4 linked regions of the Homo sapiens genome follow. The protein of the gene in region 3 interacts with the protein of the main gene of each other region in a biochemical or structural test. Each region holds a gene or a part of one and is shown on either strand. Other genes may lie near its edges.

Region 1 (6,844 bases), on a different chromosome or scaffold from region 3:
ACCCTATACCAGAGAGGAAAAAAACATATTTGCAAGCAGGTATCAAGTTCATTGTTTTAGGCAGGGTGCGGTGGCTCACACCTGTAATCCTAACACTTATGGAGACCGAGGGGAGCAGGGTCACTTGAGGTAAGGAGTTCGAAACCAATCTGGCCAACATGGTGAAACCCCTTCTCTACTAAAAATACAAAAAAATTGGCCAGATGTGGCCGGGCGTGGTGGCTCACGCCTGTAATCCCAGCACTTTGGGAAGCCGAGGCAGGCGGATCACGAGGTCAGGAGATCGAGACCATCCTGGCTAACACGGTGAAACCCTGTCTCTACTAAAAATACAAAAAAATAGCCGGGCTTGGTGGCGGGCCCCTGTAGTCCCAGCTACTTGGGAGGCTCAGGCAGGAGAATTGCTTCAAACCGGGAGGTGGAGATTGCAGTGAGCCGAGATCGTGTCACCGCACTCCAACCTGGGCAAGAAAGTGAGACACTCCGTCTCGGAAAAAAAAAAAAAAACAGTTGTTTTATATTGGGTTTTTTTTTTTTTTTTTGAGACGGAGTGTCTCACTCTTGCTGCCCAGGCTGGAGTGCAGTGGCACGATCTCGGCTCACTGCAACCTCCACCTGCCGGTTTGAAGCAATTCTCCTGCCTCAGCCTCCCGAGTACCTGGGATTACAGTCATGCGCCACCACGCCTGGCTAATTTTTTATTTTTAGTAAACGGGATTTCTCCATATTGGTCAGGCTGTCTCAAGCTCCCGACCTCAGGTAATCTGGTGAGCCACCACGTCCTGCCTTAGTTCATTGCTTATGTATGACGTTGTATCCTTCTTGAACTATCCATTCCTTAAGGGCAAAAACTGAATTTGTTTCATAGTTTCCAACTTTGAAGTGTATCTCACAAACCCTGTAGGTATTCAAATACCAGGTGACAAGAAAGCTACTTGTCATTAACTAAGAATTCATGACTGAACAGTGTGAGGAATAACCACATGAATACGGTTAAGACTGGCCAGAACACAAAAAAAGATAGCAGCTACTTGGAACTGACCTGACAAAGGGAGTGGAGGAGCCAAAGCAAAGGCATAGAGAGCAGAAACAATGGCAGACAGCGGGTATAGAAACCAGAGCCCAAACTGGACTATACAGCAGGATAATGCACTGGAATGTTCAAGCCAATACACCAAAGAATCACCTGAGTGGCAAAGGGGCTGCAAGCTCCCCATCGTCTGCTGGTATCTTCGGCTTTCATCTTCTGCCACCTCATTGATGTCTGAATAGTCCACAGCATCTTCTGTACTCCTAACCCACCCTATGAAAAAAGCAGGGAGAATCGCAACAACAGTAAGCGACCCTCACTCCCTCAGATAATTCCCATTTAAAAGTACATGTACAGGCTGGATGCGGTGGCTCACGCCTGTAATCCCAGCACTTTGGAAGGCCAAGCCAGACGGATCACCTCAGGCCAGGAGTTCAAGACCAGTCTGACCAATATGATGAAACCCTGTCTCTACTAAAAATACAAAAATTAGCCGGGCGTGGTGGTGCGTGCCTGTAGTCCCAGCTACTCAGGAGGCTGAGACAGGAGAAATGCTTGAACCCGGGTGGCGGAGGCTGCAGTCAGCCCAGATCGCCCCACTGCACTCCAACCTCGGAGACAGAGCGAAACTCCGTCTTACACACACAAAAAAGTACATACATAGTAGGTGGCTAGCCTCCTCCCCCGCCTACTCCCCACAACCCAGACTTCACCTTCATCATTTACCAAGGCACCGTCAGTCCCGGTCAATTCTTCATTTGCCGTGAGTTCAGTGATCAGGCTGCCCAGCCCCAAAGCCCCCAAGCCTGCCAAGTGCTTCTTACATTCCTGAAAAAGGGACAGCACGAGTCGAAGATAACAACTAAACCTACGACTCCCACACCACAGGACTTATTTCCCTGGTCCACGACAAAGTCACAAATCCACATGAAAAATGACTGTGCAGTGTGCCAAAACAAGCAACACGTTCGAGAACTGTAATATACATCTACCAAACTCCGCATCGATCAGATCTTTATTAAAGCACCACAGCCAACTGCATCGCCCACACTTTAAAGTATACTACAAGAGAAGACGAATCAAATAACTACTGCCAAGACTGAATGAATGGAACGGTCGTTCTCGGAACGAGGGCCGAGGCAGGGGGATCAGTGGGATTGGAGGCGTCGAGGCGGGGCTCGTTCGGTCCCTGTTTCGCATGCGCCTGCGGCACAGGAGGGGCCACAGCGGCCGACAGCTTCACTCCTCAAGAAAACGGGCCTAAGTGAAGGCAGGGTAGTTTCACTAGGGCGCAGGACACTATTTCACGAAAGTCAGTGAAGACGCTGGGAGAGCCACCTAAAAGGCGCACTGTGACCAGGAGGCCCGCTCGGGTGCTAGGAACACCCCATTGTCCTAAGCCTGAGGCCGGAACCAAACGAGCGGGAGGCAGGTCCTGTCCAGTCCTCTGGCTCTATAGAGCCATCTCAGGGCAGCGATGTCAGAGGGGCAGGCAGTGTCAAGAATCTCCAAGCAGGTTACGGGTGGGAAGCCATCTCAGTAGGCGAAACCAGCATGTGTCCTACTGTCTGGTCGGCAGAGCGCTAGCTCCAAAGCCACTATTCCCTGCGCCCCTGGCCCCGGGCTCGCCTCGCGCTCTCTTCTGCCCACTCTCCCCCAGAACGATCACTCCCACGCCACGTTGCTCCCGCACCCATGAGGACGGGATCCTCCTCCCCGGCGTTAGCTGCGCCCTGTTCTCGCTGCCTGAGCACCCTCTCCTTTCCTCCCCGCACCTCCTTCCTCTGCTTAGCCCCACCCCCCGAGCCCTACCCCCACGCCCACCCCCTCACATCATCCAAGACGCTTTCCCCCTCCAGCTGCCCGGCTCCATTGATGTTGCCGAAAAGGAAACCCGCTAAAGAAAATGGGCCGCCTCCAGCGGAATCTTCGTCGCTGTCCGTGTCTGACATGATGGCGGCAGCAGTGATGGTAGCTGCTGTCCGCAGCAGCAAATCGCAGCCGGGTCCCATAGACCGGAAATAAAACAACAGTCGCCCAGAAGTGACTTACTGAGCTCCCTTACCCTACCAGCCTCTACCGGAAGCTCAAAACAGAGGGGAAAGGGAGGGGGAAGTGGGGAGAGGGGAGGGGGAAGGGGGGGAAAACCCGGAAAGACCGGCTATCCTAAGAGAAAGAAGTAACTACTTTACTAACGGCTTTTGATTCGACGCTACGGGATCAGGAGGATGGATATGTGGAAAGCGGTTGGTCAAAGAAAATATTCAGTCCCGCCCGCTCCCACTGCTCCGCGCGCGAGCTTTCTCACGGCACCGAATTAGAGCAGTGGCTCTTCCTCCAATCAGAAGGAGCTGCTCGAGTCACGTGGCTTACGCGCAGGCAACCTCGGGTTCCTGTACCACAATACCCGGAAGTAAGGGTAAGAGCCGGTCTTTGTGCTGCGTGCAATTTCACCGGTCCGTCCCAAGGAGAGACTTGACGTAAATTATACAGGCATTCCCGAGCTATGCAGGTTACTTGTTTTGAGTTGACATTTTTCCCTAGAAATTGATTTTTTGACCGGACGCGGTGGCTTACGCCTGTAATTCCAGCACTTTGAGAGGCCGAGGTGGGAGGATCGCTTGAGCCCACGAGTATGAGGCCAGCCTGGACAAGAAAGCGAGACTCCATCCATACACAAAATCAAAAAAATTAGCCAGATGTGGTGGCCAGTGCCTGTAGTCCCAGCTGTTGGGGGGTCTGAGGTGGGAGCCAGGAGTTGGAGTCTGCAGTGACCTGTGATCGGGCCACTGCACTCCAGCCCGCCTCAAAAAAAATACTTGTTCCCCCAACGTTTTATTTCGGAAAATGTGAAAGTTTAGTAAAATGAACAGCTGACCCCTCACCTAGACTCACAATGGTTAACATTTTGCTAGGATTTTTGTTTTTCTAAACCATTTATGGGCATCTTGTTCTTCACTCCTAAAAATAAGCATCTTAACTATGGAACCAAAGTACCTTTATCACAACTTTAGGAAGTAAGTCAATATTATTTAAGGAAGAGTCCGCACTTAAATTTCCCCAGTTGTCCTAGTTGGAACATTTTACGGGGTTTCGTCATGTTGCACAGGCTGGTCTCAGACTCCTGGGCTCAAGCAATCTGCCCGTTTCAGCCTCCCAAAGTGCTGGGATTGCAGCCATGAGCCAACACCCCGGCTTTCACCTTGCTTTTTTCACATATTATGATAATATAGACTGAAATAATTTCTTTACCACATCATAGCACTCTTCCTCATTCTCCCTTTTTTCCAATACTAGGATCCATTCACGTTTCATGCATTGTATTTGGTCATCTTCCTTTAGTCCAGAATCACCTGCCTTCTTGTTTGTTTTTCATGACACTAAATATTTGGAAGAATCCAGGCAAGTTGTCTTGAAAACATTCCATGATCCGAATTTCTCTTGTTTCCTTTTTTTTTTTGAGACGTAGTCTCGCTCTGTTGCCCAGGGTGGAGTGCAGTGGTGCTATCTCGGCTCATTGCAAGCTCCACCTCCTGGGTTCACACCATTCTCCTGCTTCAGCCTCCCAAGTATCTGGGACTACAGGCGCCCGCCACCAAGCCCGGCTAATTTTTGTATTTTTGGTGGAGACGGGGTTTCACTGTGTTAGCCAGGATGGTCTTGATTTCCTGACCTCGTGATCCGCCCACCTCGGCCTCCCAAAATGCTGGGATTACAGGCGTGAGCCACCACACGCCCGGCCTTTTTTTTTTTTTCTTTTTTTGAGACGGAGTCTCTTGCTCTGTCTCCCAGGATAAAGTGCTGTGGTGCGATCTCGGCGCCACCACCCCTGGCTAATTTTTGTATGATTAGTAGAGCCGGGGTTTCACCATATTGGCCACACTGATCTCAAACTCCTGACCTCGTGATCCGCCCGCCTCAAGTGCTGGAAATTACAGGAGTGAGCCTCCGCGCCCGGCCCAGGTTAAATATTTTATCAGCCATCAGAAGGTACACTGTCAAATACAGTGTTGTCCTAGTATTGGTGATGCTAAATTTCATCACCTTGATAAAGTAGTCACCACCAGATTGCTCCATCACAAAGGTACAACCCTGTGTAATTACTAAGTAATCCACAGGTACTTAGAGATTGTGTGAATATTCTTTTTTTTTTTTCAGTCTTTTGGTACTGAGCCCATCCTTCTGCAGAATAAATTGTGAATATTCTTTTCCCCATTGACCTTGCACCCAATGTGGTTTTAGCATTCATTGATGTCCCTTGCCTAAATCAGTTATATTGGGAGAATGCGAAAGGATGATCTTTCTTTCTTTTTCTTATTTTTTTTTTGAGAAAGTCTCACTCTGTTGCCCAGGGTGGAGTGCACTGCCGACCTCCTTCTCCCGGGTTCAAGCGATTCTCCAGTCTCAGCCTCTTGAGTAGCTGGGACTATAGGAGCATACCACCACACCCGAATTTTTGTATTTTTAGTAGACACGGGGTTTCACCGTGTTAACCAGGCTGGTCTCAAACTCCTGACCTCAGGTGATCCACCCGCCTTGGCCTCCCAAAGTGCTGGGATTACAGGCGTGAGCCACCGCGCCCAGCTTGGAATGCTTTTTAATGTAGTTTATGATAGTTACGTAGCAGCGCGCACAGTGGCTCACGGCTGTAATCCCAGCACTTTGGGAGGCCGAGGCGGACAGATCACCTGAGGTCAGGAGTTTGAGACCAAGCTGGCCAACATGGTGAAACCGTATCTTTACTAAAAATACAAAAAAATTAGCCAACACGGTGGCGCACATCTGTAGCCCCAGCTACTTGGGAGGCTGAGGCTGGAGAATCGCTTGAACCCGGGAGGTGGAGGTTGCAGTGAGCCGAGATCGCGCTACTGTACTCCAGCCTGGGCAACAGAGCGAGACTCTGTCTCAAAAAAAAAAAAAAAAAAGTTATTTAGTACGATATTGTCTCTTGGATGCTTGTGCTTGAGGAAAAGCAGACTGAATAAAGGTAGAGGCTTGTAGGATGTGGAAGGAGACTTCAGGTCCTATAAATATAAAAGATAACTTTTTTTTTTTTGTAGAGACAGGGTCTCACTATTGTAGCCCAGGGTGGTCTTGAACTCCTGAGCCCAAGCAATCCTCCCGCCTTGGCCTCCCAAAGTGTTGGGATTACAGGTATGAGCCACCACACCTAACCTAAAGATACAATTCTTTTTTTTTTATCTCCCAGCCTGCTCCCAGCCGAAAGATACCATTCTTGATTCAAAACATGGTTTCATATATTCACATTGTTCGGTCCAAACAGTAAAATAAAAAGTTTTTAAAAAATAAAAATAGGCTGGGCACGGTGGCTCACTCCTGTAATCCCAGCACTTTGGGAGGTCCAGGCGGGCAGATCACCTGAAGTCAGGAGTTTGAGACCAGCCTAGCCAACATGGTGAAACCTCGTCTCTACTGAAAATACAAAAATTAGCCGGATGCGGTGGTGGGCGCCTGTAATCCCAGCGACTCGGGAGGCTGAGGCAAGAGAATCGCTTGAACCCAAGAGATGGAGGTTGGCAGTGAACTGAGATCGCACCACCACACTCCAGCCTGGGCAACAGAGCGAGACTCTGCCTCAAAAAAAGTTATTTAGTACAACATATTGTCTCTTGGATGCTTGTGCTTGAGAAAAAGCAGATTCAATGAGAGGTAGAGGCTTGTAGGATGTGGAAGGAGACTTCAGGTCCTATAAATATAAAAGATAACATAATATTCTTTTTTTTTTTTGGTAGAGACAGGGTCTCATTATGTAGCCCAGGGTGGGCTCCTGAGCTCAAGCAGTCCTCCCGCCTT
Region 2 (3,856 bases), on a different chromosome or scaffold from region 3:
AGAGGGTTAACGAATGCCGGCTTTATTTATTTTCCTATCTGCAAATAACCCGGGAAGACAAACTGGTGGGGCAAGGAAGAGGGGGAAGATGTTCCCCATCAATGGGCACCGCTCACGTCACCCAGGCCGGAGCTGTTGTCTCGCGTGGTTGGAGGTGGGCTCACCCAGCCAGGCAGCCTGCAAATTATTCTCTGGAGCCTCCCGGGGACAGGACACCGCCTCCCACCTCACACACCTGTGCTGAGGGCTTCCTCCCAGTTGGGAGGGGTGTGCCTGCTCCTGGCTGGATTCTGTCCCCACCCCCGGGGATGTGGCAGTGTCAGGAGACATTCTTGGTTGTCACGGCGGGTGGCGTGACTGTCATCCCGGGGATGGAGGTCAGGATGCTGCTGAACTTCCCACAGCGCACAGGACAGGCTGCGGCCTCCCACATCCGCCAAGCCTGCCACCCTGCCCTGGTTCTAGGGCACCAGGACACGCGTCCCTGGCTCACGGCCAGCCCAGGAAGCAAAGAGGCAGGCACCACGCTGGGGTTTTACCAGTTTTATTTCTAGACTTTCATGTTTGTCTTTTTGTCTTCTGCTGGAAACATGCCGGTTACATGTTGGTGCTGGGAAGCGCCGCGGTGCAACCAGAAATGCACAGACCCAGCCGCCCGCCGCCCAGACCCTCAGACTTGCGCGTCACAGGACAGACTCCGCTGTGCCCCGTGCACTTGCCACCAGCCTTTGGCCTCTCGATACACACAACATCCAGGACTTGTGCCCTTGCCCCATCACGACAGACAAAGCGTCCCTCAAGGCCCCCGCGTGGTTCAGACAGACGCCGCAGCCAGGATGGTTGAGGTAAGCGTGAGCCGTGTTCTGGAGGGGTGGGGCGGGGTGGGCCTGTGCCCGAGATGGCCTCCGAGCACAGGATGACCCTGCCAGGGCAGGGCCCCAACCACGTGGGCCCGCAGCGGGGTGCAAATTCTTTTGGTTCGGCAGCTTGCTAGGTGACCGGGGCACACAGCACTGTGAGCTGGCTTCATTGAGATTTGGAGTCTCTTTAAATTAGCATTATGGTGTAATTAACAAAACAATAACAAACAGAACACTAGTACATAACAGATTAAACATACCCAAAACTTGAACAAATTCCAGAAGCTATTCCAATCATCCCGAATGAGAGTCCTACAGGTACAACGCCGTGGTGGCACGTAAGACACACTTGTTATAATAATAATAATAATAATTATGCAACTTCCATAGCTACACGCAAAGAATAACACAGCTGTAAAAACTACTATGATGCTACGCCCCCGATCAGATGAAGTGCCCAGCATCACAGGCGCAGGGAAGAGAAGAGGGACACAGCCTGGTCTCTGGGGACACCGGCGCGGTTCTCACGCACGCGGCCTCGGGGCCGGCCCCCGCCAGCCTGTGTGGGATCGCGCCCGCGTGTCTGCCCGCCAAAGCAGGCAGAACCTGCCCGCTGGGTCCACCATGGCTAAGTGAAGCATGAGGTATTGTGAAACAGCAACCTTTTTGGAATAGAGCAGTAATCACATTAAGTCAAAATTGATCACATAAAAAAAAAAAAAACTACAAAAAAGGCATCTGTAATACAATGTTCTAAGAGAAAACTAAAACTAGTACATGGCAGTATATGACATTGTAAAACAAAAAACTGATCCTCCAATAGCAGCAAACAATGTGAAAGAGATACACAGAAGCGATGTGAATATTTCCAAACCGTGCCTGGAAGTCAACGGTAGCAGCGCAATAAGAAAATGGAGCTGCGGCCTGTCCCCGGTGTGGGCACCGCCCCTTCCCCTCGGGAGCCTCCTCCTCACACCTCCTCCCGCCTGTCCTCCCTCACACGTCAGCCTCCACACTCTTGCCACCTCCCTTCAACACTTCCTAAATAAAAATTACAAGAATTACATAGCCAAGATGTGCAAATTGTCTATTTTGTCACTAAGTTTTTTAAAGGAAGGGGCAGGGGATAAGAATTCATCGGAACCGAACTTAGGTTGAGTACCCTAATTTTCCTTGCACCCATGCCTGTCCAATCAGATGACTCTGGGAAACGCCAAACAGGCTGAATCAATGTCTTTGTGTGGTTTTTTTCTTCCAGATTGTTTTTTTCTCACCTATAAAAGGATCTATCTTTAAAAATAAACTGTATTAAATCTGTAACATCAAAGGCAGAAGGTTTGTGTGTGTGTGTGTGTGTGTGTGTATCTGTGTGTTTAAATCAAGGGGAGATTGCATTTATAAATCATACTGGCCTTATGAACATCCTCTGCAATAAATATACTTTTTAGCCTTAACTATAAATTATATATTTTAGTGTTTAAAAACCTTCCGGTGTGAAACATCTAAGATAACCCTTAAAAACCACCTGTTCTCTAGGTAAACCTCTGAGGTCCCTACTTTCAAACACCAGTTGGCACCAAAGGATTCCTAAACTTCAACTTCTTTAAAGAAAAGGAAAGGAACTTATCATCCTGGCAATGTGAGAATGCAAACCTTTTTCTTCTTGACTGGCACGCAGCCTCCCAAACACCCCACCTCCACTGCCACCACAGTGGCCCACACTTGCCTCAAAGTCCTGCTTGCAAACAAGTACATGGATATTCCCAAACCATTCCATTAGAAAACTGCCCTCCCTGCACACACAACAAAAACAGCGCTATTTCCTACACCTATTGGACTGAAAGTGCTTGGAAATGGAATGGTTTTAGAATATGAAGAAGAACACAAACCAAGTAGCTGTGGGTTGAACCTGGACGTGAGCTGGCTGCAGGGCCGTTGGGTAGAAAACCAGCATCTCATAAACAGGTCACTACAAAAATAGGAAGAGTATAAAAATAGAATATATTATGTCACTATTTCGTCTTCTCTTTATAGTAGCGTATCGTAGGAGTGGGACAGGTGGCCTTTCCCGACCCTGCTACGCTGGCTGGTGCCCGACAAACCTCCACTGGATGGTTTGTCACTGGATGGTTTGTTGGGGTGGTGGTCACAGGCGCAAAGGACATGCACACGGGCACGCTACGCTACTGTAACCAAGAGGTGACTTCAGCCATGAATAAGGTGAAGAGGTTACACATCTACCTACGGAATATAATAACATACAATGACTTATAAAGTGACTACATGCATATGAGCAAGCAAAGTACAGAGATGCCTAGAACCCCACTACAGCTGTGCTTTATCAGGAAAAGCACAAGAATATGTTTTTCTACCTAAAACCCTCTTCTACTTTAAAAATGGTTTGCTGAATTTTTCTATGTTTTTAAAATGTTTTTATGCTTTTTTTTAAACACGTAAAGGATGGAACCTAATCCTCTCCCGAGACGCCTCCTTTGTGTTAATGCCTATTCTTACAACAGAGAAACAAGTACATTAATATAAAAACGAGTTGATTATTGGGGTATAAAATCCTCTATCATCTGTAGCACAACCCTCCTCCCCCACCGCTCAGGGTTATGCAAATACTATTTTTTTTTTCTCTCTCTCTCTTTTAAAGACAGTTTTTGGGTAATCTTTTTCTTTTGCTTAAGTCAGAGATGGAAGGGGGAAAGAGCAAAGGAAAAAACAACCAACAACAAGGAGAATGAAGCTTTCCCTTCTGGTATCAAAATGCTCCGGAGAGGAGGGACTGTCAGGGGAGCACCTGGGGCCGGCTCCGCCCTCGCTGCGGGTGGCGGTGGCGCCCGCCTGCCTGGCGCCCTCAGATGTCCACGTCCCGCACGTCGGTGGGTGTGCAAGCCAGGTCCACCTCCTCCTCCTCCTCTTCCTCCTCCTCGGCGGCCTTGGGGTCCATGTTCTGCTGGGCCTGGCGCAGGCTTGACTCCAGCAGGGCTTCG
Region 3 (7,037 bases):
ATTTGTGCTGAATGAAGAGTAGCAGTTGGTAATCCATGGAAAGAAAAGGAGGAAATTTCAAGAAGAGGGAATATCAAGTACGAGGGTTTTCAAAAAACTTGGAAAGCCCAAGAAACAGAGAAGGCCAAAGTGTGGCTAACACAGAGTGAGAAAGAAAACAAGATGAGGTTGGAGAGGCAACAGAAACCAGACCATATAAGATCTTTTAGGCATTGTTAAGGAATTTGCACTGTATACCAATTGCAATGGGAAGCAGTCAGTGGGTTTAACAGCAAGGTGAATGTAACTGATTTACATTTCTAGGAGAAATTCTGGGGGCTCTATGGAGAATATCTTTGATGGTGAGGAGACAGGAACAATGATGAGACCAGAAGGAGCAAGATCAGGTAGTAGGCTACTGCAAAAAATCCAAGAGAAAGAGAACAATGTCTTGGACAAGAGTTGTGAGAGCAGAAATGGAGAAAAGTAGATGCACTCAGGAAATATTTTGGAGGTAGATTATTCAACAAGCCTTGATAACAGATTTTGATGTGGGAAATGAGTGAGGAAAAAGACATAAAAAATAGTTCTAATCCTTTAAGGTTGCATGCAGATCAAATAGTGATACTTTAATTTTTTCTTTTTTATTTACTGAAATGGAACACATTCCTATTTTAGGTTATGTTCTTTAAGAACAGACAAAACTAGGTCCAATAACCATATCTTCAGCAACCAGTAAAATGCCCAGCACACAAAGATTATATATACACATTTTTTTTTTGAGACGGAGTTTCGCTCTTGTCACCCAGGCTGAAGTGCAATGGCACGATCTCAGCTCTCTGCAACCTCCGCCTCCCGGGTTCAAGCAATTCTCCTGCCTCAGCCTCCCGAGCAGCTGGGATTACAGGCACACACCACCACCCCCAGCTAATTTTTGTATTTCTAGTAGAGACGGGGTTTCACCATGTTGGCCAGGCCGGTCTCAAACTCCTAACCTCAGGTGATCTGCCCGCCTTGGCCTCCCAAAGTGCTGGGATTACAGGTGTGATCCACCACACCTGGCCTTCAATATATATTTCTTACATGTATGTATGAATACATAAAGAAACGTGAACAAATCTGAAACACTATAAAGCCATGAATAACAAAATTATAATATAATTAAAAGTAGGAAAATTCATACCTAACTGGAGTGTGTGGAGGAATTACATTCACCTCTTCATCAAGGTTACTTTTTCGTGGTGTTCTCTGTGTTTCAAAACTAAATAACAATAAGTGAAGTCATTCACATACTGAAAATTTACAATTTGTGCTTTATGCATCAAAAAAGCAGTATAATGCTTCTGTTGTCTCATAAAATCATATAAAATGATAACTCAATAATAGATAGGATAGAAAATAGATGACCCAGCTGCTGCTTAAATAAAATATTTTTCACTACTCTTTTTAATTGTGGGTCTCTTTCCATTATGTTTATGACAAAGAGGTATACCAATCATTAAGTCTTTTTTTAAAAGTGAAAGTCAGATGCTTTCTCCCTGGTGGTATTGATAACCAAGTTGTTCAGTATTAAAAAGCATTAAAACTCAAGTTTTTCAATGCATTATTCCTTCTAAAAACTTTATTTCCACTTAAATAAAATTTAAAACATTTTACTGTGTTTAACTTCTAAATTACGCATATTTTCAGTTTCATATTAAAAGAGTTCATGCTAAAGACACAAAATTAACTTTACTTATGATCAGTCAAAAATTTTAACAATCACTCTCAACCATTCCAATTTTAGGTTTCTACATGATAATAACAGAGACTACACTTTTGTATAAACTTTTTTAAATAAACCAGGCAGGCAATAGTATATGAAAGGATAGAAATAAGGTAGAGACCACTATTTGAAGAAACTAATTACTTTAGCCATTATCTTTTGGTGCACATTTTAAAAAATTATATTCAGTTAACTGCAAAAAGGTAACTGTTATAGGACACACAATTCACATTAAATCTATATTTGTAGATAAGTTATATGCTTAAAATACTGTTAAACTTTTCTTTGTATAAAGACATTTGAAAGTAATTTGTTATAAATGATATCTAAAGGTCACTAAGCTAAAGACTATATAATCTACCTATATCAGTATCAACCTATATCTAAAGCAAATCAATCAAATATACCATGTGCAATACCTGTCTATAGAATCAGTCTGAAGAGTTTTATCATGATCCAAAAATAATCTTGCATCTAGATCTTTATTTTTAAGATAAATTTCTTCGTATCGTTTAGAAAGATTTTCAACCTTGAAAGAAAAAAGTCACTGACAATTATCCTTTACATGTCATTACATCTCTCAGCACACAGAGGCACAGATTTCATTAAAGAATTTTTGTATAATATACATTTAATTTTGTAATATACACTGAGTTCGCATGCAATATAAATAAGGTCTATCTAAAAGTGAGGTACAGAAAATTGCAACATTTGTTCAACTTTGATTTTAGGTCTATTTCGTGCATAGAAAATATTTATTAGAATTTTATGTAGACAAAGATAGCCAATGCTACAAAACAGTACCTAAGATAAAAATAGGTATTATAATAACTGTTTAACTGCCAAGATTTTCCAAACATCCCATATATGCTTTACTTTTAATCTTTTTTTTTTTTTTTTTTTTGAGATGGAGTTTCGCTCTTTCGCCCAGGCTGGAGTGCAGTGGCACAATCTCGGCTCACTGCCACCTCTGCCCCCGGGGTTCAAGCAACTTTCCTGCCTCAGCCTCCCGAGTAGCTGGGATTATAGGTACCTGCTACCATGCCCGGCTAATTTTTGTATTTTTAGTAGAGACGGGGTTTCGCCATGTTGGCCAAGCTGGTCTTGAACTCCTGACCTCAGGTGATCCACCTGCCTCGGCCTCCCAAAGTACTAGAATTACAGGCGTGAGCCACCGCGCCCAGCCTGCTTTTAATCTTTTATGCTTATCAATATAAAATATTTTTTCAAACATTGTTGCAAATCCTCTTGATTACATATTCTACCAATGTTTTCTAAACCCTTTGGTTCACTCCAGTACCCTTCAGTTAAGTATCTTGGGCAAGACAATTAGCTCAATTTATCAGTTCAATTAACACACTTGCACAATTTATTCCCAATCTTAGATACTTTTTCAATTGCTAGAATTTGTAAATCTTTCATCAGTTCTGATCCATAATTTTTTAATTATACTTTAAAAACCAATGCCCAAGAGAAAACTATTGGCATGCCTTCTACTGTGACTTTTAACGCCAAAGTGATTCCAACCTCAGAGAAGTAAAATTGCATTTTAAAAGGAGTGATAGGAAGAAATCCAATTAAATGCAAACTTTTCATTAATCTTCATAAATGTATTAGATAGAACAGTAATCCATGCTTATGTTTAATCATTGTTCCTGTCCTACCTTAGTTGAGGCACTAATTACCAGTCATCTATTGATTGGCTATATTATGTGAAATATTGGAGAAAAAGTAAAATTACTCTTAAGATTTATATTAAAACTATAATCCTTTTAAAGGAGAAAAAAAGATTGCTACAACAGATTTTAAAGTTATGAACAGCCTAGTTTTTGGTACCAAAAGTGGTAACAAGACTCATTAATATAACATTTGGTCCCTTCTTGCCTCTTCAGTACCATATTTTAATTGTTCTGCCCTGTATCCCAACCTTAATGAATTACTTAGAGTTCACTGATCAGACCATACTATCATACATCACTGCACCTTTGAATCTACAATGTCCAACCCTTGGAAATGCTATATCTGTAATGCTTACTCAGATTTGAAATCACATCACCTCTAAACTATTTTCCACAAAACCTATCAGCCCTAGTTTGGATTAGGTAGCTCTCCTTTGAGATATCACAGAACCCTGTGAATACTTTTTTCACACTCTTGTAGACTCCTGTAATGCTCTATTTCTTTGTCAGCCTCTCCCACTAGCACTTTAAGGATAGTGACTGAGAGTGAAATCTCTGTATCCATAGTATCTAGCACGTGCCTGACATATATTAAGCATTCAAAAAATATTTGTTGAATTAATAAATTAATTCAAAAACTAGCTATCAATTCAGGTTACAGAACTAGCAGTCTAGCTATTTTATTTCATGCCTTTTGGTCATAGTGACTAATACTATGTCTTCTAAAACACTGGTTTTGTTCTTCATCATCTATCACAGCATCCTTTTCTCCACATATTTCGTCTTACCATGCAAAGCTCTCAGTTATTCTGTTCTCATTGGAAAGACATTTGTAGCAAAATGCGAAACAAAACAGGTAGATGGATGGAATATCACTAAGGTAAAACACTTCTGCAATAGTCACAGTCATTTCAACAAATACATTTGTATTTTCAATTAAGCAGTTCTTAAAAATCCTCAAAAGAGATGTTCCACAATGTAGTAATGCCAATAATGTTGATGGCATTAATCATGGTTCCTACGCTTAATGAGGCTTACCAAAGCAAATTTAATGGTTTATATTTAGCTATTAAAATTTAGCTATTTAATGGTATTTAGAAGTTTAAAAGTCTATACTTTGATTTTGGAAAAAATTCAATAAAGATTGATTTCTAGTATAAATCACAAAATGATGCTAATACATTTGATTATATACTCAAAAGCTTTTTGTTACTATACAAAAGTTAGTTTCACCACAATTCTACTTGGCTAGATTCTTCTTGGGCAAAAAAAAAATGTGATACACAGTAAATTGATCTAAGAAAGTTAGACAATTATCCTCCCTCCACAGTCTCAAAACATTAATATTTTATTAAATTTCCTTTCAGATTACCTCTGGAAGTCCATTAGATGTTACAAGTCCAAGAGAATTCATAAAAGGTATAAAATTTTTGAAATAAACATTTTTCACCTGAAAAAGATGAAGTTACAACATGATCATTAAAATTTAAAACAAAATCTAATCTCTTGACTCTTGAACAATGCAGGGTAAGTTAGAGGTGTCAATCCCCCATGCAGTAAAAAATCTGTGTATAACTTTTTTATTTTTTATTATTTTCTTAGAGAAGGGGTCTCTCTATATTGCCTAGGCTGAAGTGTAGTGGCTATTCACAGGTGCAATCACATGCATTACAGCTTCAAATGCTTGGGCTCAAGCCATCCTTCCACCTCAGCCTCCCAAGTAGCTGAGACTACAGACCTATCGATTACTTTTGAGTACCCAAAATTTAACTAACAGCCTACTGTTGACTGGAAGCCAACCAATAACATAAAGATTGAATTCACATATATTTTGTATATGTACTATATATACATACTAAATATATCATCTTCTTATGATAAAGATAGAGAAAAGAAAATATTAGGAAAATTGTAAGAAGACAAAATACATTTACAGTAAGTTTATGTCATCTGTTAACAAAAATCGTCCGCCTGAAACAGCAGGCATCTGCAGCTACAGTTTTGTATGTATTTTATGGTATAGTAAATGATAAAATAGACTAGTATCTACATATATTTTGTACATTCAAGACATGCCTTTTTCTTAATTTTTTCTGTATTTGTAGGCTACACGGTTTGCTACAAATTTTTTCAAATTATTGCAAATCTCCAAAATTTTTTCTAATATATGTAATTAAATATATCTGTGTATAAACGGACCCATGCAATTCAAACCTGTTGTTCAAGAGTCAACTGTATATTTGTTGAAATTAGTAAGCCATAGTGCAAAAACTATGATATATCTTGATAAATCATTCTAATACTTCTTAAACTAGATTTTAGGACCACACTCTCACTCCTTCCCAAAGTTAACAGAGAAATTTCAAAGATGTAACATTTTTTACTGCTATCTGGTGTTAGTGATTGTGGACAATAAAACAAACTATGAGAAAAACTGTATGGTAAAAAGGAAAGAAGCAATAGTACCAGATATCCCAAAGTCTAATGTAGACGCTGTAAATAATAAGCTATCAGTCCCTGGAAGCTTGTTTACTCATTATAAAAAGGAGATTGAATACATTATTTGTAAGATTCCTTCTAACATCCACATTCTATGAACAAGACAAGTAATTCCTGGGAATTCATATGTATTCTCCAGCAGTCATTATGTGCTGTAATATTTAGAAAGAGAGTAATTATAGAAGGCCAAACAGAAATTTAATGTTGGTATCACTTATCACTAAACTAAAACACTAGAGCACTAGAGTTTTCTAAGCAGGGCTTTTTTGGTTTGTTTGTTCGTTTTTGGAGACATAGTCTCACTCTGGCGCCCGGGCTGGAGTGCAGTGGTGCAATCATGTCTCACTGTAACCTCAAACTTCTGGGCTCAAGCAATCCTTTTGCCTCAGTCTTCCAAGTAGCTGGGACTACAGGCACATGCCACCATGCCCAGTTCATTTTTTTAAATATGTATTTTGTAGAGACAGAGTCTCGCTATGTTGTTCAGGCTGGTCTAGACCTCCTGGCCTCAAGAAATCCTCCCACTTCGGCCTCCCAAAGAGCTGGGATTACAGGTGTGAGCCACCATGCCCAGCCTTGGCAGGGTATTTTAAAACATTAGGGGTATCAGTAACCTCAGAGGAATAAAAAAAAAAAAAAACTACATTTGAAAACTATTGTCTTGATTATATACTTTTCAGTGATTCCAGAGTGAGGGAGCTACTCTCTTTAAAATCAAAGTAACTAAATATAACGAATTAATTTTTTCTAAATATTTTGCTACTGCAAAAGAGTTAGCACTAATTACAAAAAAAACATGCTCATAACAAAAGAAGTAAATATTGTTAGGGAGAACTTACATCTAAATCTACTTTAACTGTTTTAAAGAAATCATGAAGTTAAATTACCTCATCTATATTACATTCATGTTCTTTACAGAGAACTTCAATAATTCTTGTATCATTTTCTAGTTGTTTTGCTATCCGTGCACTCCTGTTCTGACCTCGCCTGGGTGTTCGAGGTGAACCATTAATGGGTATAACAGCTGTTTCTGTAAAAGTGGTAAATTAGATAAGAACAATTGTACATCCATCATATAAAATAATGAAGTATTCTAACTATAACTTAGGTCAAAA
Region 4 (7,037 bases), on a different chromosome or scaffold from region 3:
TAAAAATTGTCTGGCTAAGACATTGTCATGTAAAAGATTCCAGGGGAAATATTTAAACCTTGGACTAATTAAATAACTTTATTTTTAAAGGAGGTTTCTCTAGAAACTCATTTAATCTACTGCCTATAATGGCTACAAGTGGAAAGTAATAAAACTGCATTTATTTTAAAAGAAAATTGCATAATTTGGACCTCTCACTAATTTATCCCAGTCTCCTTTTTAGGCTCTTCCTGTGAGAATGCTGAGGTTTTACTGAGCCAATTCCTTAGTGCAGGACTTGTTAACCTGGAAGACCCTGGGAGTCTGGGATAGAATTCAAGGGCTCCATGTCCTCTGATGGGAAAAATTAAAATTTTATTTCACTAACCTCTTACTAAAATGTAGCATTTAATTTTTTTAAGAACACAGGTAACAAACCAGAGTAGAAGTACAGTGCCTGTGACTGTCTCTGGTAGAAACTAGGTATTTCTTTTTTTGTTTGGTGGGGAAACCGAGTTTCACTCTTGTCATTCAGGCTGGAGTGCGGTGGCGCGATCTTGGCTCACTTCAACCTCCGCCTCCCGGGTTCAAGTGAGTCTCCTGCCTCAACCTCCTGAGTAGCTAGGATTACAGGCGCCTACCACCATGCCCAGCTAATTTTTATATCTTTAGTAAAGACGGGGTTTCACCATGTTGGCCAGGCTGGTCTTGAACTCCTGACCTCAAGTGATCTGCCTGCCTTGGCCTCAAATATTAACCTTTCTGAAGATACACAGTCCCTGTCCCCCTCCCTCAACCAAAAAGGAAAAAAAAAAAATTGTGTCACCTTCCAAGAATCTACGGTGAAAAAGTCTCCAATTACTGGAAATGGAGTACAAAGACACTCATAAATAGAGATGCCACTATCTTCAAGGCCATTCTGAACACCTGCCATTGACGCCCATATCAGGACTGAGGCTGGAAGTCATCCTCTGTCAGTTCCCACCCTGCATCTTGGCACTTTTCCTCCTCAATCTCTCATCACTTCTGTCCTTTCCATGCTCTACCACGCCCTTGGCTGGGTCCCCCTTTGGCCATTCCACCTCCACTCCCTACTATCAGGGCCATCTTTCTCAAATGCAGACCTGACCAGGTCACTCTCTTGCTTCAAATCCCTTAGAGATGGCTGCCAGCCGAGAGGCAGAAGAGAGCATGGGCTTGGGAGGTGGCCCTGTCTCCCAATGGTCAGCTACCACTTACTGGCAGTGTCATCGGGGGCAATGCTGGGATCATGATGTGCTTTGCAGGGTAGCTGGCAGTTTGCAGCTAACATGGGACATGTTTTTGAGGGCCTAGGCATGCACAGGCCCTCAAAAAATGGCTGGGGTTGTTATTCCTTCCACCACTATAGTAAAAGTCTGAGCTCCTGAAGCAGGCATGCCAGGCTCTTCAGGGTTGAGACTGGGAGCATCTGGCCCTCTACTCCTGCTTTCCATTCCAGCCTCTCCAAACTCCTTTCAGATCCCCCAGGCCTCCTGTTGCTTGCCTCTCCTGACTGCACTGTGACAAGTGCCATTTACTCTCCCTAGAGTTCGTTCCCCAGCCTCTTCTGCTCTTCCTGGCCTCCCCATCTCCCATAAACCTTCTCTAACCGGTCCTTCCTCCTCCCCATCACCTCGCCCACAACAGGATGCTTCTCCTTTAACCCATTTGGGTACCTGGTGTCTGTCTCTATCACCACCCTGCATCTATCACCCAGTAAGCAATCTGTTCACATGTCCCCAGCAGTACAAAAAGCATGGGCTCTGGGTGGACAGGCCTTGTTCAAACCTCAGCACCAGCATGTCTTGAAGACATTTGTTTCTGAGCCTCAGTTTCTCAACTGCACAACAGGGCAACAACGGCATGGCATCAACCTAGTTGGGCTGTCGGGAGGGCTCAATGAATCCTGCATGCAGAGAATTTCTGCATGGATGCCAACTGTGGCACCTGACACTGGGATGCTCACTACAGAACAACCGCGTCTTCTCTTATGCCACGCCTTCTCTTCTGCCACCACAACAATGTAAACTCCTCTGGGGTAGAGACCAAGTCTCTCATATCTCAGAGCCTTCTGTGCCTGCTCAGTGCAACGCAACAACACAGCACTGCTGGGTGAACTCAGATGTGGAACACCCTGCACTTGTCTGTCTTTAGCTACAAGGTACTGAAAAGTGCAGTTTAATAATCTGTTAACCTGTAATAAGAGCAGCAATAATGACAGATAGTAAAGTTGAAAAACAAATGCAACCTGACCAGGAAAACCTATATAAAAGCCTAGGGAACATAATGATTTGTTTTGACTGAAATATAAACCATGGCCAAAATCCTAAAGGTATAATGTAAAAACACAGTTCTCTGTGCTTTCAAAAGAAATAGGATTTGCTCCAGATTCCTAACAGACACCACAGTGAGCTCGCCGGACACCTTCCCAACAGGTTCCAGGAATCCCTGCAGTGGCCGCAGATCCAGACTGTCCACAGTCAGCCTGCTAATACCCACAAAGGCATTTTTATTGTCACAGGCCATTTGCAACAGACTGAAAGGCCTCCCCTTCTGCTGCCAGCCATGGCTGGTTTGAAAGCATTCACATTTCCTCTTCTTTTAACATGTCTTCATGGACTCCGGGGTCAGCTGACACCAGAGGCACTGGGCTACCCAATGACAGGCAATTTCCCCAGAAAGCCTTGTTAGCCATTAGTATTTTTATTGCTGATCTGGGTAAATGAACATGACCCTCCCCACCCTCATGGTATTTTGGCTTCAAAAAGCAATGCCTAATTGTATTCACGGCCTGTCTTTAAATACAATTTTAAGGTATTCAATGAACAACGCTATTAGCTAAATTTGAGGGCTTGTAAGACAGATAAAGACTAGGTTTCTATAGAGAATTTAAGAGTAATGAGGTTAAAGTTTATGCAACTTAATGTGATAGAATAATAGCTAATACTTACTGATCCCGTATCAAGTGCCAGCACTTCATCTGCACTGAATCCCTATAACCTTATTACGTAGACTCTATTATGAAGGCATTTGAGGGCAGGAAATGGAAACAGAGAGATGTGAAGTTACTGATGGCCTCTCTCTCCAGCTACCCATCCATACATCAGCTGCCTGTCCATCATCTGTCTCCTGCGCTTCTCTTGCTCTCACTCATTCTCTCTCTGTACCCACCCACCCCAGCCCCACTGGCCATCCTATTCCTCTTTGTCTCCCTTCTCTCAGTCTTCCTTCCCTCCCAGCTTGTTTTTTTTTCCCTTTCCTGTCTCAACCTTTTTGTATTTGTCTCTCAGTCTCTGTCTCTATAGATTTCCCCCTTATGTCTCCCCTTCCTCCCTCCCTCTCTCTCTCTCTATCTCCTTCCCACCTATTTCTCTCTGTCTTCCCTATCACCAGTACTCAACACACGCAATATAACAAAAATATTTATGGTGTAACATGGTAAAGAAAGAAGGATTTGAAAACCAACTTTTTTTTTTGAGCTGGAGTTTTTGCTCGTTGCCCAGGCTGGAGTACAATGGTGAGATCGCGGCTCACTGCAACCTCTGCCTCCCAGGTTCAAGTAATTCTCCTGCCTTAGCCTCCTGAGTAGCTGGGATTACAGGCACTCCCCACTACGCCTGGCTAATTTTTTATATTTTTAGTAGAGACAGGGTTTCAGCATGTTGGCCAGGCTGGTCTCGAACTCCTGACCTCAGGTGACCACCTGCCTCGGCCTCCCAAAGTGCTGGGATTACAGGCGTCAGCCACCGCGCCCGGCCTGAAAACCAATTTCTAGAGCAAGCTTGTTCAACCCATGGCCCACGGGCTGCATATGGCCCAGGACGGCTTTGAATGTGGCCTAACAAATTTGCAAACTTTCTTAAAAACATTATAAGATTTTTGGCCCGGTGCAGTGGCTCACGCCTGTAATCCCAGGGCTTTGGGAGGCCGAGGTGGGCGGATCACGAGGTCAGGAGATGGAGACCATCCTGGCTAACATGGTGAAACCCCCGGGCGCCTGTAGTACCCTCTACTAGGGAGGCTGAGGCAGGAGAATGGCGTGAACCCAGGAGGCGGAGCTTGCAGTGAGCTGAGATCGTGCAACTGCACTCCAGTCTGGGCGACAGAGTGAGACTCTTGTCTCAAAAAAAAAAAGAAATGAGATTTTTGTGGGATTTGTTTTGTTGGTTTAGCTCATCAGCTATCGTTAGTATGTTTTACGTGTGGCCCAAGACAATTTTTCTCCCAATGTGGCCCAGGGAAGCCAAGATTGGACACCCCTGTTCCAGAGTAACGATTCTACCCATCTGAGGACAAAGTTACACTATCAAAACTAAGTAATTATAATTAGCAAGCTATTCTTCCTAATGGCTTTGAAACTGTAACTTTATTATGTAAGAAAACAAGACTGACTATAAGCTGATAATTGTTAAAGCCACATCATAAGTACATGGGAGTTCATTATGCTGTCTACTTTTGAGACAGTTTTAGGCTGGGTGCAGTGGCTCATGCCTGTAATCCCAGCACTTTGGGAGGCTGAGGTGGGAGGATTGCTTGAGCCCAGGAGTTTGAGACCAGCCTGGGCGACATAGTGAGACCCATCTCTATTTTTTTTAATTAAAAAAGAGATAGTTTTAAAAATTGACACTAAAAAAGAACAAACAAACCTATGAATTTATTTTATAAATTGTTCTTCTGTGTGTTTAATTAAGATCCACCATTATGGAGGAAAAGTTAAAGTCTTCCAATATCCCATTTGATCTTTAGTTCTTATGTATTTAAGAAAGCTACCCATTGATTTATTTTCTGCTTTTATTTCAGATCAATGATTATACTGGCACAATTACAATGACTTGATTTTACAAGGTGGTAAGTGGCACCAGATTTTCAGTTTTCACGTTTGAGGCTGTGGAAATATTGTCTCTGGACAGGAGAAATAAAATGCCAACCATGAGCCAATGGGAATTTCTCTTCCACAATGAAAATATTCACTACGGGAATAACAGAGGGTGCGAGGAAGAGAAGACATTTTTCAGCCAAAAATCAAGGACAGGAAGTATTAATTATACGCATCAAAACACACTTAGAAACAAACTGCTTTATTAGCAAGAAAAACTATGGGTGGGATTGGCTGAATTCTGTCATCACTTCAACCATTACAGAAACTGGTAAAGCCACCATTTTAGGCTGCTAAATATTTGCTTAAAGTAACAACAGCTTACTTTTCTGCTAGGCTCTTGTTCTGTGCCAGGCTCCCTGCTAAACAATTTACATGAAGTCTCTCAACAACTCAGTGAGGTAGGGATTACTACAGGCCTTATTTTAGAAATGGGAACACCAAGGTACAGTGAGCCTCGGTGAATGCGCAAGACCAGCCAAGAGCACAGGTGGCATTTGGGTCCAGACTGGCTGGCTCGGGAGCTGCCTGCCTGTGCAGAAGAATGAGACCCTAGGAACGCTGTGTGAGCCATAAACCTGCCTGGACTAAAGAGCATCTCAGAGGAATCTCGTATCAACATAACACAAACATACATTTAACTCTTACCAGTTTCAGAGCTTTCCCTCAATCATCTTATAGACCCTCAAAACAATCCTCTAAGGTGGCTGAACAGAGATTGGTCTCTCTGTCTTAGAGGTAAAAACACGGAAGCTCAGAGAGGTCAGAGGAAAACTGGGATCTCCTGCCTCCAAATTGAAAAGTACTGCCACCTAAACTGGGGCCCTTCCTCTTTTCTAGAAACCTCAGGGCACTGGTGTGAAAATTAAGTGAGGCTGCACATGATGTGCTCAGTGCCAGGGCCTGTGACATTGTAAATGGTCAACAATGTTAATAGCACCCAAAATGAAATGGACAGACTGGCCTTTTATTAGGTAACAGAAAGAGTCTCACTTTCTTTGTTACTGAACAAGGGAAGTATCTGATGACCTCAGGAGAGAGCAGAAAGCAAGCATAAGCTTCTCCAAAGCTCAAGTTCTAAAAGCGTATCTGTATGGCTGGCACCACATGAAGCATCCGCTGGAAAGTTAGCTGCTGAAAAGAAGCATTTAAAAGTGGGCCCTTAAAATAAATTTCGAAAGTTCAGGCTGAGTGCAGTGGCTCATGCCTGTAGGGATGCACTTTGGGGAGGCCAAGGTGGGAGGATCACTTGAGGCCAGTAGTTCAACACTGGCTTGGCCCGGGCAAACTAGTAAAAATAGTGAGACCCTGTCTCTACAAAAAAAAAAAAAAAATTTTAATTAGTCAGGTAGCATATGCCTGCAGCCCCAGCTACTTGGGAGGCTGAGGTGGGAGGGTTGCTTGAGACCAGGAGCTCAAGGCTGCAGTGAGCTGTGATTGTGCCACTGCAGTCCAGCCTGGGTGACAGAGCAAGACCCTATCTCCAAAAGCAACAATAACAACAACAACAAAAAGTTCAAGAAGAGTTCAGTTCACAGACATTAGTTTTTGATTCTACAGTACACAACTGTCACATACATGTACAATATTCAGGCACAATGTATGTAAATACAAACACATGAACAAATGAAAATAAAATGAAAAGAAAACCCTGAATTCAAAAGGCTAGTGTTCATGTTTTCTTTGACGTCTCCAGGGGAAAGAAATAATCAGAAAATTCAGTGTTCAAAGTAGACCGAATATTGCAAAGCTAAATGCGGTCCTGGTGAATAGATACTGCTATAAACATGCATATTCACAAAAAGCTGGAGAGCAAAATTCACATGTTATAATAAATGCTTATATGTGCACACAGTATTTCTAGAAGGACACACATAAAACTCCAGGGTGATTGCCTCTAGGTGGGGAAAATGAATAGGAGAGGGAATTACTTTTCACTAAATACCCTTTTAGGATTTCTTACATACAAGTATTTTTATATACATTTAAAAAAAATTAATCCTACTGTTAAAGCTAATCATTTTGCCAGGATCAGGTTTCTAGAAAAGAAAAAGAGACTACCCTTACATTTCAGGGATTAATTGGAGGAGTTTCTGGAGATACCATTTTGAAAATCACAGTGAATTCCAAAAGAGACATCAGTAGAGCATCCAGTGGCTAA

Evidence for each region.
Region 1: the proteins of RB1 (region 3) and TAF1 form a complex in vitro, tested with the Homo sapiens proteins (4 studies listed by BioGRID).
Region 2: of the proteins of RB1 (region 3) and CCND1, one has a biochemical effect on the other in vitro, tested with the Homo sapiens proteins (15 studies listed by BioGRID, with this or other methods).
Region 4: the proteins of RB1 (region 3) and ABL1 form a complex in vitro, tested with the Homo sapiens proteins (3 studies listed by BioGRID).

The regions. Positions count from the first base shown.
Region 1 is NC_000023.11:71,362,513-71,369,356, reverse strand, and holds the start of TAF1 (transcription initiation factor TFIID subunit 1), read right to left. Parts: upstream 3,001-6,844; 5' UTR 2,983-3,000; coding exon 2,863-2,982; intron 2,808-2,862; exon of another isoform or gene 1,859-2,807; coding exon 1,744-1,858; intron 1,304-1,743; coding exon 1,187-1,303; intron 1-1,186. UniProt on the Homo sapiens protein: The TFIID basal transcription factor complex plays a major role in the initiation of RNA polymerase II (Pol II)-dependent transcription.
Region 2 is NC_000011.10:69,651,147-69,655,002, reverse strand, and holds the end of CCND1 (G1/S-specific cyclin-D1), read right to left. Parts: coding exon 3,721-3,856; 3' UTR 529-3,720; downstream 1-528. UniProt on the Homo sapiens protein: Regulatory component of the cyclin D1-CDK4 (DC) complex that phosphorylates and inhibits members of the retinoblastoma (RB) protein family including RB1 and regulates the cell-cycle during G(1)/S transition.
Region 3 is NC_000013.11:48,362,730-48,369,766, reverse strand, and holds part of RB1 (retinoblastoma-associated protein), read right to left. Parts: intron 6,953-7,037; coding exon 6,810-6,952; intron 6,580-6,809; exon of another isoform or gene 4,874-6,579; coding exon 4,796-4,873; exon of another isoform or gene 4,791-4,795; intron 2,274-4,790; coding exon 2,164-2,273; intron 1,241-2,163; coding exon 1,163-1,240; intron 1-1,162. UniProt on the Homo sapiens protein: Tumor suppressor that is a key regulator of the G1/S transition of the cell cycle. The hypophosphorylated form binds transcription regulators of the E2F family, preventing transcription of E2F-responsive genes.
Region 4 is NC_000009.12:130,838,251-130,845,287, reverse strand, and holds part of ABL1 (tyrosine-protein kinase ABL1), read right to left. Parts: intron 1-7,037. UniProt on the Homo sapiens protein: Non-receptor tyrosine-protein kinase that plays a role in many key processes linked to cell growth and survival such as cytoskeleton remodeling in response to extracellular stimuli, cell motility and adhesion, receptor endocytosis, autophagy, DNA damage response and apoptosis.